Regions from separate parts of the Homo sapiens genome. Here region 1 is linked to region 2. The links come from fine-mapping of genetic effects on gene expression. A gene starts in region 2. The other region holds a variant in brackets. All regions are shown on one strand. Distances are between the middles of the regions.

Region 1 (4,389 bases), 42 kb after region 2:
AGTGGGACAGGTGTTTGGCCAGGGCCTTCCAGCCGTGGCACCGTCAGAGGCTACGGGTGGCCCCTCTGGGACACACCTTTGGCAAACACCAGCAACTGATCCCGTGGATAGGCTCCTCATCCTGACAGCCTGAGTCCAAGCCCTCAAGGTGCCGAAGCACCTGCCGAGACGGGGGAAGGACCTCCGTAGAGGCAGCCTCGCCAAGGGCCCCTGGGGAGGGTGGCTCGGGGCTGAGGCTTCCTCGCAGTCATCCCAGGAGACCCTATCTAGGCCATGTTCCTTCTGGGGCCTCGGCCACCTGGCCTTCCTGCCGCTCCGCACCTTTGTCAATATTTATTTCTTCTCTGGACTCGAACAGCCTGGTATTTGTTTAAAGGGCAGGAGCAGACGTGGCTGTTCCTGCCTCCTTGCCTTGCGCCCTGCTTCCTGGCACCTCCCCAGGGTGCCTCTTGCCTGCAGGTGGGCTCACCAGGCAGGCCCACCTCTGTCCCTGGCCCTCCCACTGGGGCCAAAGGCCTCACAAGAGCTTTCTCACTTCACCATTGACTCCAATTTCCCTCGAGACACCTTGACCTGGGCCTCTGGCCCAACGCACATCATATGTGGCCTACAGGCCTAGAACTGAGATGCTCAGAGCATTAGCAATGTTCCGAAAATACTCCTGGCTTCTGATCCAATAGAACAAGCCACAAAGAGGTTGTGGCAAAAGGTCATGTGGTTTGAAACAGATTTGCACATCATTTTCGGAGAAATCAGAGCCTGTCCTGGGCTGAGGCTAGGGCGTGGACCTGGGAGACCTGCACTGGGAATGCGGAGCTGCTAATACTCCTGATAAATGTGTGACTGGCCCTCGGACAGGTCACTGGACATTTTTTCTGCCAAACAGATTCAGATGTGATTTGTCATTTTTGCCTCCTCCCAGCCTCGGGGGCATGCTTCGGACAGAGGAGGCTTCAGCCTTTACCTCCCCACTCCCACATGCCAAAATATTTTGAGATCTGTTGCCTCAGTTTTGAGTACTGCTCACATCAACACAATGTGGGGATTGTTCCTTTTCTAATAAAGATACTGCTGAAAAACTGGACATTTGATGCTTTTTTAAAAAACCTTTATATTTTGACCCACTTTTAGAAAACTAGTAGTAAAAGTAGCAGAAAATTTGCAAGCCTGGTACAGGCAACTTCTCTATGTCCCTCCAGCAGTTGACCCCAATCTTGCAAAACCATAGCACAATTTGCAAAGCCATAGCACAGTAATCAGAACCAGGAAATTAACCTCAGTACAGCAGCCTTAATCAAACCAAAGATCCCGTGTGAACTTCACTGGTTTTCCCATTAACGTCTTTTTCTTGCTCCAGAATCCCATCCAGGATCCCGCATTTGCATATAGTTGTTTTTTTCTCTCTAGTCTTCTAGACTCTATAATAGTTCCTTGGTCATTCCTTGTCTTTCAGGACCTAGATACCCATGAAGAGTATTGATCAGTTACTTTGCAGAAGTCTCTTAGTTCAGGCCTGTCTGAACTTGGGCTCAGGTTGTGCATCCCAGGCAAGGGCGCCAGAGGCCTGGGGCTGCATCCTGCTCACTGCACGTGTCACGGGGGCATGGCGTTGATGGCTTACGTCTGTGATGATGGCCCTGATCACCTGGTCAAGTGGTCTCTGATGGGCTTTTCCTTGGTAATGTTTTTTCTGTCCCCAAACCCCACCCTTGTCAACAAACCTCCTGGAAGAGATACTTAAGGCTTTGCAAACCCCTTTTTTCCTCAAACCTTCCACCTATTCTGTTGTCTATTAGCAGCTCTTGTCTGCAACAATCACCACTGTGGTGTTGACCTAATGCTGATTTCTCCTTTGCTCCTTCCTTC[C/T]GCATGGATTGACTGGATTTTCATTGCAAGGAAGAGCTGTCACTTCCCTATTGACTTATTTAATCAAATACTTATATCAGTGTGGACTTGTGGACATTTATTTAACTCTATGGGTTATTGTCCTAAACTATCATTATTTTTCTTATTGTTTAAATTCTTCCAACCTTGACCATTTGGAGCTCCTTCAGGGCTCCTGTGTTCTTTCAACAAACCACCATCTTCTTCTAGTTCCACACGATGTTCCAGGATTTGCTGCTGGTTTTGCTCAGTTAATTGTTACATATTCTCTTTGGGTTCTGCATAGATTGTGAGCTATGAGAACCACAGATCACATCTTCTGCTTGATATCAACTACGGGCTAGATTATGCTCAAAACTTATTTCTGAGTCGTTGGCAGAGCCAGTTCTTTGGAACTTGGAGATTGGCAGTTGTGATTGTTGTGTTGGGAGCAGTTAAAACCAGGCGGAGCCCAGTAGGCTCCAACTCTGCTGTCTTTTACGGCTTATGTTCATTCTACCTTAAAGTCTCCATGTGACCACCTAGAGTTCAAAAGCCCCAGAATACCCAACTCAGACTAACCTGTGGCTCCCTTTGCCTGGCACACAGAATAGTGCCACGGTTTCATGCTGATAACCTCGACCTTTGTCTGAGAGCTGTACCTGATCTTACCAACAACACTGTGAGAAAGTTGGAAAGTTTCTTAATTTGGGTTCCCCCAGAAGCTGACTCTGTTGCATGGATTCTTGTGCAAGTGTTTTATATGGACAGTGATCTCAAGGGGCTGTAGGGAAGTGAAAGAGGGAGAGGAGGGCGACTGATTTGGGGTGTATTGTCAAGCACCTCATTGCTGTGGGTAGCTGGAGCTCAGTCTCATGGGGGGTCCCTGGGAGACAGTGTAGAACTCATACCTAAGAATGATCCTGCCCCTCAGGAGTTGGGGTGTTAGGCTATTTGGGGGGGTTGCTCCTGGGAGTGTGAATTCTCTAACACTTCTAAGCACACAGGCAAAGTTGTACACAGGGATGATCAGGGTCTGCAGGATACAGGTGCAGCCCCAATGTCACCCACTGCAGGCAGAGCCCATTTTACAGATGAATAAACTGAGGTTCAGGGAAGCTAAGTAATGTCTAGAAATGGTGCAGAGACCTGGTACTTGAACCTATGAATGTGGGTAAGGATTGGGTTAGATGGTTCTAAGTCTCCACCCAACTCTGAGATCTTCTCTCTTTGCACCCACTTCTCATGGCATGTTCCTTCACTGCTACCTGCTTGCCTGCCACGAGGCAGACCGGCCATTACAACCCACCACCCATGGTTTCTGGAAATGGCCTCCCAGACTTGGCAGGGTGAGTATTTGCACAAAGGCACACCTGAGCAAAATGAGTGATGGTTTGGCCTGATGTCTTGGTAGTTGCAAGTTCATTGCTTGAGTCGGACAGGATAAACCCCGTGTTGTTTTAGGAGGTTTGAGTTACATCGACCCCACCGATAAGCAGTGTTAAAAGATTAGGTGAATTGACGGAAGGAACTCCTGGCTTCTTCTTTGCTTAGACTGTTGGGCTGACAGATAATCTACTTATCTCCTCCGACAGCGCCAGAAGATAGACATTCCCAGTGCTGAGATATATGTTGTGCTGCGTCACAGTTTCTCACTGTTTCTCCTTTCCCTCCCTGACCTCCCAGATCTAGTTCTTGGCCCTAATTCTGACTCCCCCCTTCCCCCATCATGTAGCCTCAGCCTGTCCTCTTAGTGAACTTTTGGACCCGGGCCATGGGTGTTAGTCTTTGGACTCTCGTGAATCTTTGGAGGGAATTCTAGGCTAGGAGACCTAGTCTCAGGCCCAGCCCTGCCAATAAATACATATGCATGTGGCCTGGGTGCAGCCTCAGCCTCAATGTCCCACAGGAGGAACTGGAATGTTTAAAGAGGAAATTATCCCTGCCTGGTTCACCTCCTAGGACTTCTGGGAAGTTCAAACCAGATGAGGCTGCAGGAGGATTATCACAACCCAGGACTTGGCTGACTTCCTGGACTTGAGGCTGGCTTCAAAGGACATATATATGGATAATACACATACAAAAAGAAGCTCCGTCTCGTTGGTATTCAGGAACATGTGAGTTACAACAAGATACCAATGGTGGTGGGGATCTAGCCTTTTGAGGGGCAAATTGCCACTCTCGATTACAATAAATGATGTCTAAATCCTGTGCCCCAGAGAGTCATTCTTTAGATTTATGGCAGAGAGATGCTGACATGAGAATGAGAGGGTAGGCATGCATTAAGCTGTCCACAAAAGCAGCTCTTCTCAAAAATCTGGGAATCTGGGGGCAAGGTCTATTGTTTTGTTTTGGTTTGTTATGTTTTTCTTGAGATGGAGTCTTGCTCTGTCACCCAGATTAGAGTGCAGTGGTGCGGCCTCGGCTCACTGCAACCTCTGCCTCCCAGGTTCAGGCAATTCTCGTGCCTCAGCCTCCCAAGTAGCTGGGACTACAGGTGTATGCCACCATGCCTGGCTAATTTTT
Region 2 (4,377 bases):
CCAGTGCCAATGGTCTTTGTTTTTGAATGGAATATTAAATTTAAGGAAGCTATTCTCCTCACTTGTCCAAGTTAGTAAATTAGAAGTTGAAGGTTAAAGTGTATTTATCCTCAGATCCTTATGAAGAACCTCTGATTATGTTTACCAAGGTCTAAATATAGGTCATGTGTTCTGGTCTGCTTCAAGGTCTTTAAATTTACGAGTCAGTTTACGCTAATAAGTAGGACAGTGGGTATTTACTGGATTCTAAACAGAATTATCTAGCAAACAACTAGAATTCTGTTACCAGGTGACTTTTTTCAATAATCAAGGAAAACAAGCAATTCTAATATTGTTGGTAGCTTATAAAACAAGTGAATTTTATGTATTATTTAGTCAAATATTTGATCTATTTTAGTTTCATCTGTAAAATGTGGATAACAGTATCTATACTCCACAGGACTACCATGAGGATCAAGTGAGTTAATACACATAAAGTGCTATTTAATGTTAATTACTATCTGAAGGGAGTTCCTTGCTAGTAAGTTAAAAAAACAAAACCAAACCTCATTCTTTTGACACCGTTGCTCTCTATTATAGAAAACATAGCAAACATATAGAATCAGAATTGAGATAATTACTTGAAGTGTATTCTTTAAAGCCATCTTCTCCCAGTTCCAGAATCATCCGCTGTTTCCACCTCTCCAACAAGAAAACCTGTTGTTTTGTCATGGTCTGCTGAAGGACTCGGGTCACACTTGGTATCACATTCCTTTGCAAGGGGATTTTCAAAGGAACTGAAGGATCACTTGCATTTGGTTTATCACTTCTCTCTGGATTGAAGATAGGAAACCAGTTTTGTGGCACTCGTCTGTCCTCACCTTGGTTTGGCAGCTTATGCTTGCTCACGGGTCCACAGAGCAAAGCATCTTCCTCCACCGATCCCGGGGTCTGGGCGACGCCTCTGGATGACAAGACAGACTGAACTAAATTAGAGTATTTTTCTTGGTCCACTTCTTCATATGGGTTCACTTTTTTCTTCCGGCCACATGAGTAAGAGGAAGTAGAGAAAGCCACAAGGGCAGCTGATTCCACAGAAAACTTTGAACTCCTGAGCTGCCTGCAAATGGTCTGAAATAACTTCATCTTCATTCAGATTTGTTTTCACTTTAGTCTATTTGCAACGGTCGAAGGCCTTTATGTTTGTATTCCTATTGGAGAGAAAACAACCATCAAAGCGAAAGCTGCATCAGAATGATATTGCACATCAAAATTGTGAACTTTTTCGACATGTTTGGACAGAGCCCTTTCTTAAGAAAGTCGACAGAGCGAGACCCTGCCTCCAAAAAAAATTTATAAATAAATCAAGACTCAATACCCGAAGGACCGACACATACTAAATGCGAATTAGTAGACAGCTTGAGGCAAGACGTCCCAGTTTCTAATCTGCAGGAATGTGACGCCCAGGAAGGGAGGCGTGTGCGAGACACGGAAAAACACAAAGATGGAGCCCGTCCCATGGCGGCCACACAGTCCTAGGTGACAGACGACGACTAATTCCTAGACACCAGGCTCTCTGCTAAGTATTCTGTGTGGATACTTCTCATTTGGTCCTCACACCCTCTACCGTGGGTCTAGAATGAACCCGTTGCACAGACGTGGAAATCGGGTTGGAGGGTCCCGTCGCTCGCCGGTCAGAGCTGGTGGCGGCGCTGAGGTCCCATTACTGTGACCGCAAAAAGTCGCCTCCCGCTCCGCCGTGGGTGCGGACCCCTGGCGGGGCCAGGACGGCGGTGGCCCCTGTGGCAGGAGTCTGGATTAGAGAAAAGACGACTTAAATAAAAGCCCAGCCTACGGCAAGTGTCGGTACCTTGGAAGCCACCACACTTCGCTTAACTCTCAAGGCGCGAACAACCTCTCGCGACCCGTACTTTCATCCGTCCCGCGCTTTGGTTTCGAATTAGGCACAGCCTAAGGCAAAGCAGGTCCAGAATGCCCCGCGGCGCTCACGCCCCACCCGAGGCTTTCGTCGGCCTCCGCCAACGCGCCACCAGTTAGAGGCAGGGAGTACCTCTCCGAGCGGAAGGGCCGGCGTCTCCGAAGCGCGGGAGCCTCCAAATCGCGCCCTTCTGCTCTCACGAGATCTGGTGACGTCAGCGCTCGCTGCCATCTTGGACTCGGGCTGAGTAATAAATTCCCCCCGCACCGAAACGCGGTCTTTCTCTAGACGCGTCTTGCTGGGAGAGTGTCCGTTGCTTCCCGTCCGTGTCGCGGCCCTGCGGTTGGCGGCCTCCTCGTGGAGCGGAGCAAGGGTAGGCCCCACGTGGCGTCTTTGCCCGGCTCCAAGATGGACGGCAGCGGGGACTGGGAGGCTGCTCTGGGGGAGCACGTGGCGCCCTGCTCGCCTGCTCCCGGGGCAGCTGGGATGGTGGCGGAGTCCGGAGGCCTCCTGCCGCCGTCGGGCAGGGAGGCCGGCGGAGGCGGGGCCGTGGCCGCCCCCGAGAGGCGCCCAGGCGGCGGCGGCGGCGGCCCAGCTTCTTCTTTCCTCGCACAGCCAGGCGGCCCCTGCTCGAGTCCCGCGTCGCCATGGCCGCGGTTCCCGAGTTGCTGCAGCAGCAGGAGGAGGACCGCAGCAAGGTGAGGTCCTCCCAGCCTCAGACTCCTGGGCGGGCGGCCCTGCGAGCTCCGGGGTCGCTGCATTCTTTCCCTTGCGCGTCCATAGGCCGTGGCTGCTCGCCGCCATCCCCAGCGCGGGAAGCACCCGTGAGACCCGGGCGGCCCCTCTCCCTGGTCTTCACTGAAGGCTGCCCCGGGGAATCCCTGTGGATGTCCCGGATTCTATTAGGACAGAACCAGAGACGCGGGACCTTAGCCCCAGCTCAGGCGCCGGTGCCGAGCGGACTTGGAGAGATGATCTCTGGAGACCCCGGAATGTTCTTTTTAAAACTTTCCTCGGCTTCGTGGTGACCAGTAGGTGAACGTGAAATTGACTTAACATGCGACAGACCAGTTTGGTTTGTTGCCCCCAAAATACCCTCCTTCCCCCCACCTTTTACTGAGAAGACTTTTTTGGGGGGGGGGCCCAAACAACTTGGGAAATTGCATCAAGCGTCCGAACATGCTGCTTACAACTTTAGAAACGCAAAATGCGTTGTTGTGGGAGTTGTGTAATTTTTAGTAGGTGCTCAAATACTTGCTGAACTTGGTGTCTATTTTTAAGTCTTGCCCATTGATGTAAACTGTCCCTAGGTCACGTGTATCTTGAGGTCTAAAAGATTATTTATGCAATAAATTGAAATTCCCATAGCCAATTAAAGATTCAGACGAGCCTCCACTCTTTTTCATTGGTTCTTTAAATTTGCCTCGGTAGCTTTGCGATGCATGGTTTGCGAGCAACCTTTCTTGCAGAATCGTCAACGTAAGTTTTTCTGACCGATGAAAAAGAACCTCTAAAAATACAAGGCTCTCTTAAAATGTAATTTGGAGCCGTCTTAACTTACACATTTCTTGAGAAGTTAAAGGCACCTCCATAGAGAAACTTGTTCATCTAGTAAGTAAATACCAGAGTTTCAAAGCGGCTGGATTGTTCCAACAAGGGTATCATTGCATTAATTATTAAAATAGAGCTTTCTATACAGGAGGGTGTTGTTTAGAGTGGTTTTTTTTTTGAAAGTTCTTTATTACTAAAACAAAGTGGAAACTTGAGACCACGATTCTTTGTAAAACATTATAAAGGTACTTTTCTCCATAAAGGGTAGATAATGGATTGGGATTTTGGTAGCATTTTATTTTTTCTTTCTTTCTGGTACATTCTTTTAGCTGTCTTGATTCGGAGTCAGCTAGGTAAAAGGACTCAATTGCTTCACCCCACTCTCTGGTAGTACAGTATATTGCAGCTGGTTTTTAAAATGACTTCCACCACCCTGATCCTCCAGCAAAATTGGAGAATGGTTATGAAGGCCATTTCCTGCCTGTTTTAGAGGCTACAGAAACTGTCCGTATCTGTAGCGAAGAGAGTTACATGACATTGTTTTCCTTTTTACATTACAGGAATAAAGAGACAATAAAAATAAATAATTACCCTGACGCGTGGCTTTATTTTTGTTTTCTGATCTCTGCTGATGCTGATAACCTGCTGTGGTCTGGCCTAGATGGTGTTATGGTTAACTGAAAGGGAGTTTGGGGCAAGTATGAAATAATGGGAAACTAAGTCTTGGGCAACTTTTTGCCATAATACAATTTCGGTAGTCAACTGAAATGTTTTGTGTGTTACCTGAAATGTGTGTTACTTAAATTGTTTAAATGCCCTCCTGATAATTTACTTTGGTTTGGAATTCTCCCTAAGGATGGAGTTAATTAAGACTCACTAAGGTAGGGGGACATACTTGATTCTTCAGG

What was found.
Region 1: its variant is fine-mapped to the expression of SNX5 in whole blood (TOPMed, PIP above 0.99).

What each region holds. Positions count from the first base shown.
Region 1 is chr20:17,924,703-17,929,091 of GRCh38, reverse strand. No RefSeq gene overlaps it. Among named protein-coding and RNA genes, the nearest start is that of SNORD17, 36 kb to the left of the region's middle. The variant C/T (reference allele first, on the strand shown) is at 1,867.
Region 2 is chr20:17,966,614-17,970,990 of GRCh38, reverse strand. It overlaps SNX5 (sorting nexin 5), which reads left to right and starts at 2,197. Exons shown (of 13, transcript NM_014426.4): 1 at 2,197-2,616. The coding sequence starts at 2,566. MGME1 (mitochondrial genome maintenance exonuclease 1) reads right to left here and starts at 1,973. Exons shown (of 5, transcript NM_052865.4): 1 at 1,850-1,973; 2 at 621-1,190. The coding sequence starts at 1,131. RefSeq lists enhancers at 979-1,108, 1,129-1,328, 268-1,467, 2,049-2,358, 1,975-2,729 and 3 more and a silencer at 2,359-2,568.